Homo sapiens: one gene and its partners. The protein of the gene in region 3 purifies or fractionates together with the protein of the main gene of each other region. This does not show direct contact. Each region holds a gene or a part of one and is shown on either strand. Other genes may lie near its edges.

The links.
Region 1: the proteins of GLB1L3 (region 3) and ZYG11B purify together in Homo sapiens (affinity purification with mass spectrometry; 3 studies listed by BioGRID and IntAct, with this or other methods). This does not show direct contact.
Region 2: the proteins of GLB1L3 (region 3) and SIL1 purify together in Homo sapiens (affinity purification with mass spectrometry; 3 studies listed by BioGRID and IntAct, with this or other methods). This does not show direct contact.

Annotation. Positions count from the first base shown.
Region 1 is NC_000001.11:52,813,445-52,817,198, reverse strand, and holds part of ZYG11B (protein zyg-11 homolog B), read right to left. Parts: intron 3,664-3,754; coding exon 3,466-3,663; intron 3,340-3,465; coding exon 3,287-3,339; intron 668-3,286; coding exon 570-667; intron 1-569. UniProt on the Homo sapiens protein: Serves as substrate adapter subunit in the E3 ubiquitin ligase complex ZYG11B-CUL2-Elongin BC. Acts to target substrates bearing N-terminal degrons for proteasomal degradation with the first four residues of substrates being the key recognition elements.
Region 2 is NC_000005.10:139,196,630-139,200,383, forward strand, and holds the start of SIL1 (nucleotide exchange factor SIL1 precursor), read right to left. Parts: upstream 1,740-3,754; 5' UTR 1,640-1,739; intron 1-1,639.
Region 3 is NC_000011.10:134,307,282-134,311,035, reverse strand, and holds part of GLB1L3 (beta-galactosidase-1-like protein 3), read right to left. Parts: intron 1,411-3,754; coding exon 1,273-1,410; intron 466-1,272; coding exon 385-465; intron 1-384.

The DNA of each region.
Region 1 (3,754 bases), on a different chromosome or scaffold from region 3:
AATCTTTAAATTCCTTGAGGTGAGAACAGTGTCTCATTCACCACTATTATTCAGTGTCTAGTTACACCATGCTCATTCTGAAAGAATACCTTAAGTTGGCCGGGCACAGTGGCTTATGCCTGTAATCCCAGCACTTTGGGAGGCTTAGGCGGGCGGATCACCTGAGGTCAGGAGTTTGAGACCAGCCTGGCCAACATGGTGAAACCCCGTCTCTACTAAAAAAAAATAATAATAATACAAAAATTAGCCGGGCATGGTGGCAGGTGCCTGATATCTCAGCTACTCGGGAGGCTGAGGCAGGAGAATCGCTTGAACCCAGGAGGCGGAGGTTCCAGTGAGCCGAGATCGCGCCACTGTACTCCAGCCTGGGGAACAAGAGCGAGACTTCGTCTCAAAAAAAAAAAAAAAAAAAAAAAAAGAATACCTTAAGTTTATAACCTAAGATGGCCTTACATTTTAAGTCAGTGTTCTTAAAAATCACTTTAATACACAATTTAGAAATATCTTTCCTGGGAAATGAGAATTTCACTTAAAGAAAAAAAACACAGTTCTTTTTTTTTGGTACATACGATTCTTGCTGCAGACATGTTGCATGGCCCAAACTGCCCATAGCTGAACTCCTGGTGTTGTGAAACAGCCAAGTAATGGGAAAAATGGATTAAAGGACCTAAAGGTTCAAAAGAAAAGAATCAAAGTTACATCCCATATTTAGCGTAATTTCCTAAAGCAGTGATTCCTAAACTTTTCATTTTCAAAATTTTATCCTATTATATTTAGACTAATATAAATGAGCTATAGAATATCATTTCTTTGTCTTAACCATTTCAGAGAAGACTGCATTCAGACATGACTCAGTACAGAAGATGGAAGGTGATTAGAACATGGTAGTGAAAGAGAAAAAATTTTTCCAAAAGCACTTTTTAGTCTTAAAGATACACATTTGAAGATAAGTAGATCTTGGTTTGGAAACTAAGAAATAGAGAAATTAGGTGATAACTAACTAGTAGAACACTATGAAAAAGATGTATAATTATCCCTTCTATTTTCTACTGGTCTGAATAAAAATAGGTGGAACATAAGTTGGAGAAATAAAAAAAATGTTGGCAACATCAGCATTTATGAACCAAACAAAAAAAATAAGTTGAATAAAAATTAAATACTTCAGGTAATTAGTAATTTAATTATCAAGTTATCTAATTACAAACAGAGTTAGGCATCCAGTATGCACTTCTTAATTTTTGTTATTTATTTATTTATTTATTTTGATACGGAGTCTCGCTCTGTCGCCCAGGCTGGAGTGCAGTGGCGCGATCTCAGCTCACTGCAACCTCCGCCTCCTGGGTTCACGGCATTCTCCTGCCTCAGCCTCCCAAGTAGCTGGGACTACAGGCGCCTGCCACCACGCCCGGCTAATTTTTTTGTATTTTTAGTAGAGACGGGGTTTCACCACGTTAGCCAGGATAGTCTCGATCTCCTGACCTCGTGATCTGCCCGCCTCGGCCTCCCAAAGTGCTGGGATTACAGGCATGAGCCACCATGCCCGGCCTATTTATTTATTTTTACATTTATTTATTTATTTGAGACAGGGTCTCACTCTGTTGCTCAGGCTGGAGTGCAGTAAGGCGATCTCAACTCATTGCAGCCTCAACCTTCCAGGCTCAAGCGATTCTCCCACCTTAGCCTCCCAAGCAGCTTGGACTACAGGGATGTGCCACCACAACTGGCTAATTTTTTATTTTTTGTAGAGACGGGGTCTCACTATGTTGCTCAGGCTGAGCTCAAGTGATCTACCTGCCTTGGCCTTCCGAAGTGGTGGGACTACAGGTGTATGCCATCATGCCCAGGTTTTTTTATTTTTTAGTAGAGATGAGGTCTCACTATGATGCCTAGGCTAGTCTGCAACTCCTGAACTCAAGTGATACTACCACCTCAGTCTCTCAAAGTGTTGGGATTATAGGTGTGAGCCACCATGCCAGGCCCAGTATGCCCTTTAATAAATTATTACAAACTGTTTCCCCAACCAAATCTAGTGTTATTCCTTTTTTGAGAGTCTCATTCTGTCACCCAGGCTGCAGTGCAGTGGCGCCATCTCAGCTCACTGCAACCTCCACCTCCCAAGTTCAAGCGATTCTCATGCCTCAGCCTCCCAAGTAGCTGGAATTACAGGTGTGCACCACCATGCCCCACTAACTTTGTTCTTTCAGTAGAGACAGGGGTTTCAACATGTTGGCCAAGCTGGTCTCGAACTCCTGGATTGAAGTGATCCACCCACCTCAGCCTCCCAAAGTGCTGGGATTATAGGCATGAGCCACAATGCCTGGCCCAAATCTGGTGCTACTTCTAATTCCTTCAATGTGTCATTTTATTTTAGACCTTCCTACATTAATACGATGCTTTTTCTTCCTAAAAATCTCCTGCCTCTCCTTATCTTTCAACACTCAGGTCACAACTCACTTCCTCTGAAAGGTGTGTGTGTGTGTGTGTGTGTGTGTGTATTTACATTTGGAGTCTTGCTCTGTCACTCAGGCTGGAATGCAGTGATGCAATCATAACTCACTGCAGCCTCAAACTCCTGGGCTCAAGTGATCCTCCCAGGACTACAGGTATGTGCTACCCCACTGGGCTTCACCTTTAATTTCATAACATTCTATGGACATTTGGCATAACGGTATTTTATCTGATCCACATTCACTCTCCCTCACAAGGATATAAAATTCTTGTGTGCAGACACCATGTCTTTGTTCATTTTTGTATTTCAAGAGCATAGAACAAATTCCTAGCACTTGTCTTCAACAAATGTGAAATGAAGGAAACATGAAGAGTGATAGGTGGTAGAAAAAAGTCAAAATACTTTGCTTCTTTTAAAGCCAATACTTTTGGCTGGGTGTGGTGGCTCACGCCTGTAATCCCAGCACTTAGGGGGGCCCAGGCAGGCAGATCACCTGAGGTCAGGAGTTCAAGACCAGCCTGGCCAACATGGTGAAACCTCGTCTCTACTAAAAATACAAAAATTAGCGGGGCGTGGTCGTGGGCGCCTATAATCCCAGCTACTCGGGAGGCTGAGGCAGGGGAATTGCTTCAACCTGGGAGGTGGAGGTTGCAGTGAGCCAAGATCATGCACTGCACTCCAGCCATGGCGACGGAGTGAAACTCTGTCTCAAAATAAATAAATAAATAACCAATATTGAGGTGCCTGAGGGAAAAATTATGCATCTAGTAGGAATGACTCTTAGGAATGATCTCTAGACTAGGTTGCTGGTTTACTGTTAATTATGATACTAATTACCTGTATGCTACCATCTCACACTCTGGAGTTGGCCATTTCAAAATAGCTGAATGCTGGAAGACAAAAGACACACAAGAAAGGATTACAATATTTATTTAGCACTGCATTATTTACTACATTATGAGGCTTTGATAGTTTAACCACTATGAATGTCTTTTGTTGGTATGGAATGACCCTACCAAATCATCCAGCAGAGAATTCCTCTGGCTACGACTCAATGTCCAAGCTTGTTCACCTCTGGATATTAAATGGGCAATAATTCCAGCTGCAAAGTAACTGACTTCCACTTCCACACTGTGTAGGAGACTACTGATGTGGTCTATAAAATCTTTCCACATTAATTCAGAATGTAATTCTTGTACTTCAGCTATATTGTTCTGGAAAAAAAAAAGAAAATATAAAAATTAATGTAATATGTATAGTAAATGGTTAAGATAACTGTTTTTAGGCCCTGGATAACAGGCAATT
Region 2 (3,754 bases), on a different chromosome or scaffold from region 3:
TAAAATGGGAGCAGAACGTCTCTTCTATTGCCAATTTCATTAAAACAGCACATGTATTCATGAGCAGATTAAATTCACTAAACAAATGAAAGAAAGGGGAAATAAATGTGGTGTGGTAACACCATCTTAAAAACCCGAGAGCCATGTTCTCAAAACCACAGACCAAGTTCTGACCCATGTTATACAAATATCAATCCCAATATCGTTACACTCTGGCTCCCATCAAAATCCTACCCAATCCCCAAATCTGGCTATACTTTTATCAGAAAAGAAAAAAACTTGGGTGGGGTGAGAGCAGAAAAGACACACACACACAACAAAATATCTTTCACAATGTCAAAAAAAAACCTGTTTATATGCCAGGCGAGGTGGCTCATGCCTGTAATCCCAGCACTTTGGGAGGCCGAGGTAGACAGATCACCTGAGGTCAGGAGTTCGAGACCAGCCTGATCAACATGGAGAAACCCTGTCTCTATTAAAAATAGAAAATTAGCCGGGCACGATGGCGCATGCCTGTAATCCCTGCTAATCGGGAAGGTGAGGCAGGAGAATCGCTTGAACCTGGGAGGCGGAGGTTGCTGTGAGTCGAGATGGCACCATTGCACTCCAGCCTGAGAAACAAGAGCGAAACTCCGCCTCAAAAAAAAAAAAAAAAAAAAAAAACTGTTTATAAACACATCACTTTCTTCTCTTAGCAAATATGTAAGTTTCATTCTCCTCCTGTCTACTTAGTTTGGGTTAACTTAACCCCCGCCCCATCTCTCAGATCATGTTTTTATTTAGGTTTATTGAGGTGGGAAAGCCAACTGAACTTTAAACGAAGCCAGGCATTTAAGAATATTAGAAAACTGATCTTACATATATAGGTAGTCAAATATTTTTAAAAGACATCAAATGGCATTCTAATTCCTCCGGTGCAAAGAAAGCCCCAGCCTCACACGTGTTAGCATTTCCTGATTCCTGGCTTTTCCCACTCAGAGCCCCATTCCAGGGGCTCATATGTCAAGTCATTCTCTCCTGACTTCTGAAGCAGGGATTTTCAAAGCCAGGATTCCGGGACCACCTGAATGAGAACCCCCTGGGGTACAGCTGCCCACGCACCATCTTATCGGAAATCCCAGGGAATGGAGCCCAAGGCTTATGCACAAAGCCCCTAGACGATCCGAGAGATAACACTAACCAGTCTGTAACCTCTAAAGGCAAATTTTCCAGGACAAAGAAAAACAAGCAATAAGAGAGTGACAATAATTCCACATGGGAAGAGACACACGGGTCTCGGAGATCAACACCAAACCACCCCTTCTTCGGACAGATACGGAAACTTAGGCTGGGAGAATGAAACAGGCAAGGGCACTAAAAACAGGTGCGGAGCCAAAGCCAATCTCAAATTTCCACGGCCCCATCTCCTGCCAATAAAGAGGTGAATGGAGACATTCTGAGTGGGAAAGATAAGAAAGGTAGGCCTTCGGCAGGGAGCCCCGGGCCCACTTGGACGTCCCGCTTTGGAGACACTAGTGAGGATGTGTGGGTCCCCAGAACACTGCTGGGAAGGCGCCGAGGCCGCCGGCAGGAGGAGGCCCAGGAAGCGCCCTGAGCCCCCCGCCCAGCTCCAGGGCCGGGCGGCCCTCACCGCCCCTACCTTCGGCCTCCGGCAGCCGAGTGGCAGACACAACTCCCACAATTCCAGGCGGCCGCGGCGGCGACCAGCTCCCCCTGCGCAAACGCGGCGGCGACCGTCTGAGCCGGTGAGCTGGCAGCTGTCACGCCGCTCGCGGCCTCGCCCAATCGCGGGCCGCCAGACCAGCGCGCGGCGCCCCCCGCCCCGCACCGAGGTGGGAGCCCCGCCCCTAGCCCCGCCCTCTGCAGACTCTTGCACGAGCTGCCCCCGTGCCCCTCCCCTTGGGGGGAGGGAGGGCTGAAGAGATAGCTTCACGCCTGCTTTTGCTTCCAGGCTGGAACTGCGAAGTTTCCTGTCTGATTTTCCAACAATGTAATTTCTTTCTAGCGGAAGGACCCTCAGAAAGCAATCAGAGGGGTGCGGAGTAAAAATAAATCAAGTTCTTGTGACTCAGTTTGGGACAGAAGCCGAGAGTCTCCAGCAATAAAATTTCTCGCAAATTCATGCAAAATAGGACACCTTTAAGCCACTCACTTTATATACTTGTGTAGATTTTTTACAAGGACCAGTTATTTTAAAAATAGCATCAGGTGGCCGGGCGCGGTGGCTCACACCTGTAATCCCAGCACTTTGGGAGGCCCAGGCAGGCAGATCACTTGAGGCCAGGAGTTCAAGACCAGCCTGACCAACATGGTGAAACCCCCGTCTCTACTAAATATACAAAAATTAGCCAGGCGTGGTGGCGAGCGCCTGTAATCCCAGCTACTTGGGAGGCTGAGGCAGGAGAATCGCTTGAACCCACCAGGCAGAGGTTGCAGTGAGCTAAAATCGTGCCACTACACTCCAGCCTGGGTGACAGAGTGAAACTCTGTCTCAAAATCTAATAAAATAAAATAAAGGTCACTTGCGATTCTGATTTTTTTTTAAGACAGAATCTGTGTCCCCCAGGCTGGAGTGCAGTGGCAGGATCTTGGCTTATCACAGCCTTGACCTCCCAGGCTCAAGGGATCCTCCCCCTCAGCCTCCATCCAGTAGCTGGGACCACAGGCGCGTGCCACCGTTGCCAGGCTAATTTTTTTTTTTTTTTTTTTTTTACAGACAGGGTCTCGCTATGTTGCCCAGGCTGGTGTCAACGCAGTTGTAATTCTGCTGTACCAGTGAATATCATGCTTTCTGTACCAGGTGCTGCATATATATTTTATTTACTTATAACGTCCTCTGAGCAGAATGGTCATCCCCTTTTTATAAATGGAGAAGCTGACGCTCAAAGAGGCTAAAGGAGTTATACAAAGTCATACAGTCAGGAAGTGGTAGAACTGGGAGTTAAAGCTAGATTTAAGTGTCTCCAATGTCCTGTTCTCTTTCCACTATTCCACTTTTAGACCTTCCCCTTGCCTAGACATGCTTAACCTGATGAATAAAAATGACTGCCCCCTCCTGCCCTCAGATCCCCCACATAGTGATTCCTGGTCATTCATGAGTGGAGAAAACAGTAATCCAGACAGTTACCTCCCCAAATGGCAAGTATTTCCCAATAGCAAACAACCTATTTCTGGACTTCCCTTCCCTTTTCCATGTACTCTATGAGCTTCTAGCAGACAATTTACCTTCTTGATTATGTTTACTTCAAGCAGATGGGAAACTGACTTCATAGCCACTGAGCAAACCTTGGTTACTAGTATGGGAAGGGAGAACAAGCCCCTGGGCAGTAGTTCAGTGAATAGTGCCAGTTTATGAGAAAGGTCTAGATAAAACACCTAGGGCCTGATTTGGAAAGAGAACAGCTCACTTTTCCCCTGGAACACCCAGGAGACCAGTGAGAAGAACTGGGCCTAAGAATAATTCTAGCTTATGTCACTGCCTAGTACCATAAGTACAGATAATAAATATTCAACAAATATTTCATGAGTGATAAATTAGAGAATGAACATATAAATTATAATAAGACTGGCACGAGTTATAAAAAAGATGTTAATAAAGTGCTACAAGAGTAAGAGCCTTAAAAATAGAATAAGCTCAAATCTTATAATAGCATGAATAAATGAATGCTTGGGCCAAGAGAAGAGTCCAGCTGAACACAGCTGCCAGCGCTCAAAGCGGGGCCTTTCTCCTTGGGACGGATCTAACCAGCTCAGG
Region 3 (3,754 bases):
AAGTGCCTGAGATGACCACTGCCTTCTCTAAGCCCCCCATGCCTATCCAGCATGGCTTTTCCTTTCATATTGGGGGTTACTATGTCATCCATGGTATAAGAGCTTTACAAAGAGTAACTCAATCTTCGCAGTCATCACAGGAGACCAAGGTTACTATCTTTATGCTTCAGTGAAGAAACTGAGGCTTATAAAATGCTTAGAAACCCTGATTTTAAAAAATCACACAGATTTTAACCCCAGGGTTCGAAGTTAAGGTTGCCCTTGTTCTCAGGAGCTTGGTGTAACTGCTGCCCACAAGGGAGACCCACGCCTTCCTCACTTTTCCACAGAACAGAGACTCCACATGAGGAGGGCTGGCCCGTAAGTTAAATGGGTGCTGAGTACCTGAGACAGATTGAAAGAGTTTTTGAAGCTTCAGATATTTTTCTGTGTAATCTCCAGCCTCCGTGAGCACTGCATCATAGTCTGCAAGACACCAGGGCCAGTCACCAGCCATGCAGTCTCTGCAGGAGGCCCTGTTTCAGCACCGCTGGCAGGAGATGGCCAGGGCCACCGTGAGTGAGACAAAAGGAAGACACCTTCCATCCCACGTGGGTGTGTGATGCCAGTCTAAGGACATTCCCCACAACTCTTCCTGGGCACCTTCCACTGGCTTCCAGTGTCAAGCCATGACACTGGGCTTGCCCCCACTTCTTCACTTTCTAATGCAAACTTGTTCAACCCACAGCTCATGGGCTACAGGCGGCCCAGGATGGCTTTGAATGCAGCCCAACACAAATTCATAAACTTTCTTAAAACATTTTGTGTTTTTTTTTTAAGCTCATCAGCTATCATTAGTGTTAGTGTATTTCATGTGTGGCCCAAGACAATTCTTCTTCTTCCAGTGTGGCCCAGGGAAGCCAAAAGAGTGGACACCCCTTCAACGGGTACTCTTTTCTTTGCTCAGTCTGTATCGCCCGGCCGTGCAGGTCTGTGCCTTTACAGCAGTCACCGTTCCTACCCTGCCTCTCTTCAGAGGTTCAAGCCAACAGGGCAGTATACCAGATGTGTGAAGCGGAGCTCTAAGTCCCGGAAAGCCCTGTCTACTGCAATGACAGCCTGTTGGGGCATTATGAACATACAGAAGGAAGGAAAGTAGATAGGAAAATCTTCAGTACTCAGCATAGATTATAGGTCAAGAACCCAGTGGTGCCAGAACAGGCTTCCGGAGCCTCCTCTGTAAAGCCCCAGCACCGCCCATGCTGGAGAGGCTACTACACCAGCGACACTTGCCATAGCTGGTGACAATGCCCGAGTGCTTCCCGAAATATGTGGCCCCGTTCATGAAACCAAAGTTGGTTCCACCATGGAACATATATACATTGAAGGAGATCTCATATTTGATGAATTCAGACACAGCATGTTCAACCTCTGCAAAGGGGAACATGAGAACACAGAGAATGTTAGAAATTAAGAGGAGACAGAAGCCTCTGGCAAACTCTTATCCTTTCCAACCCCACTCCACAATCAGTTACAGTAACTCCTCGCTTCACGGCTATATACATTCTTGGGAATGGAGACTTTAAGTAAAATGATATAAAAAAAAAAACAATTTTTCTCTCAATTTTATAATGAAACAATGTTGAAGAAAACAGTATTATATGAGGATATGCTGTACATCATTTTGTTTAGTTTCCAAGAACCTATTGATGACGTTAAAGACCTACTGCAAATGTTTTATCATTCAACCTCTACAAAGATTCCAACAAAAAAATAGGCAGAATTGGCCAGAACTACTCTAGGACACCGAATCTTGTCAATCCCAAGAGATTTTTGAACACTTTTTTTCCAAAATATTGACATAATTTGACTCTAAACTACATCTATTAAATAATAACCTAAGAACCCTCATGTCACTTAAATATCTAATTTTCCTTAAGTTTTTTGAAATCATACATATAATTAGTACACCCTCATTACTACCTTCCAGTGAAATGTTTCTGGGAACACTGACTTGGAAACACCGCCATAGTCCACAAGTGGTTGCTCTTAATCTTTAGCCACAAAACTTCCATTTTGTACTGTGTTTAAACAGCTGCAATCATCTCTCCACTGGCCACAGTGGGAAGAAGAAGGTTAAAAGTCATTTAGAGTGGGAGTCAATTCTGGCTGTGCTCGTTACTATTTGTATGACCTGGGGCAACCTATTTTCTTTCTCAACGCCACTGCTTCCTGATCTGTTAAATGAATGTATTAATTCCAGCTATATCATGGGACTGATGAGAAAATTCATTGATGAGGTAATATATGTGGAAAAAAGGCACAGTGCCTGCCATACAAGAGACCAGAAAAGTTTTATTTGGTAGTGGTGGTGGTGGTGTTGGTGGTGGTGGTGGTGGTGATGATGGTGGTGATGGTGTTGATGGTGATGGTGGTGATAGTGGTGGTGGTGGTGGAGGTGATGGTGATGATGGTGATGGTGATGGTGGTGGTGGTGGTGATGGTGATGGTGATGGTGGTGGTAGTGGTGGTGGACATGGTGGTGGTGGTGGTGGTATTTGGTGGTGATGGTGGTGGTGGTATTTGGTGGTGGTGGTGGTGGTGGTGGTGATGGTGGTGGTGGTGGTGATGGTGATGATGGTGGTGGTGGTGATGGTGATGGTGGTGATGGTGGTGATGGTGGTGGTGGTGGTGGTGGTAGTGGTGATGGTGATGATGGTGATGGTGATGGTGATGGTGGTGGTAGTGGTGGTGGTGGTGGTGGTGGTGGTATTTGGTGGTGGTGGTGGTGGTGGTGGTGGTGATGGTGGTGATGGTGATGGTGGTGGTGGTGATGGTGATGGTGGTGGTGGTAGTGGTGATGGTGATGATGGTGATGGTGGTGGTGCTGGTGGTGGTGTTGGTGATGATGGTGATTGTGGTGGTGATGTGATGATGGTGGTGGTATTGTTGCTGGCATTATTGTTGGTGGTAGTGATGGTATTATTGTTGGTGTTATTGGTGGTAATAGTGGCATTTTTCTTTTGACTTTTTTTCTATTTTTCAACCTAAAACAGGCTTTTCTCAGTTCCCAAGTATTTTTCAATGTTTTTCTATACTTCAGATACAAGTGGCCTTGTTTTCATAACAGCTCTTTCGAAATATCTTCTGTAGACACAAATGCCTATTAAGTAAACGACTGCCAGGCATTGCTCTAAGTGGCAGCACTTGATCCTCACACCAGCCTCATGAGGTTGGTTTTATGATAATCCTCACGTTTGGATGAGGTCACTGAGAATTAAAATGAAGGAAGCCTGCATGAAGCTAGCGCATGGCTAGCGCTGCAGAGCTGAGATTAAAACCTGATCTCTTTGGCTCCAAGATCCATGCTCTTGGCTATCGCTGCATGTTGTCCCCTGACTATTATTAGTGCTTAGTTGACAATGCCATAGAGAGGGCCTATGCACTGCTAGAGATGATTAATGTTCCACCTTCCTCAGAGATGTCACATTTTCAGAGAAGCTTCGGTGACCACCTAACCTTACCTGCGCAGGTCTTTCTTCTGTCTTTTCTATCACTGCACCCTGTTTGTTTGCTTCAAAGTATCCACCAAACATGGAACTACATATTGATTGTTTTACTCTGTAATGATCTGTGGACCTCACTAACTTATACTCTGTTGGGGGTGGGAACCATGTAATTTCTATCCACCAGAGCATCCTCAGGGCCTGGCTGAGTGCTTGTATGTGAAAAGTTGCATGAATATCTACGGCTGATCAAGTGAATCAATTAGCAG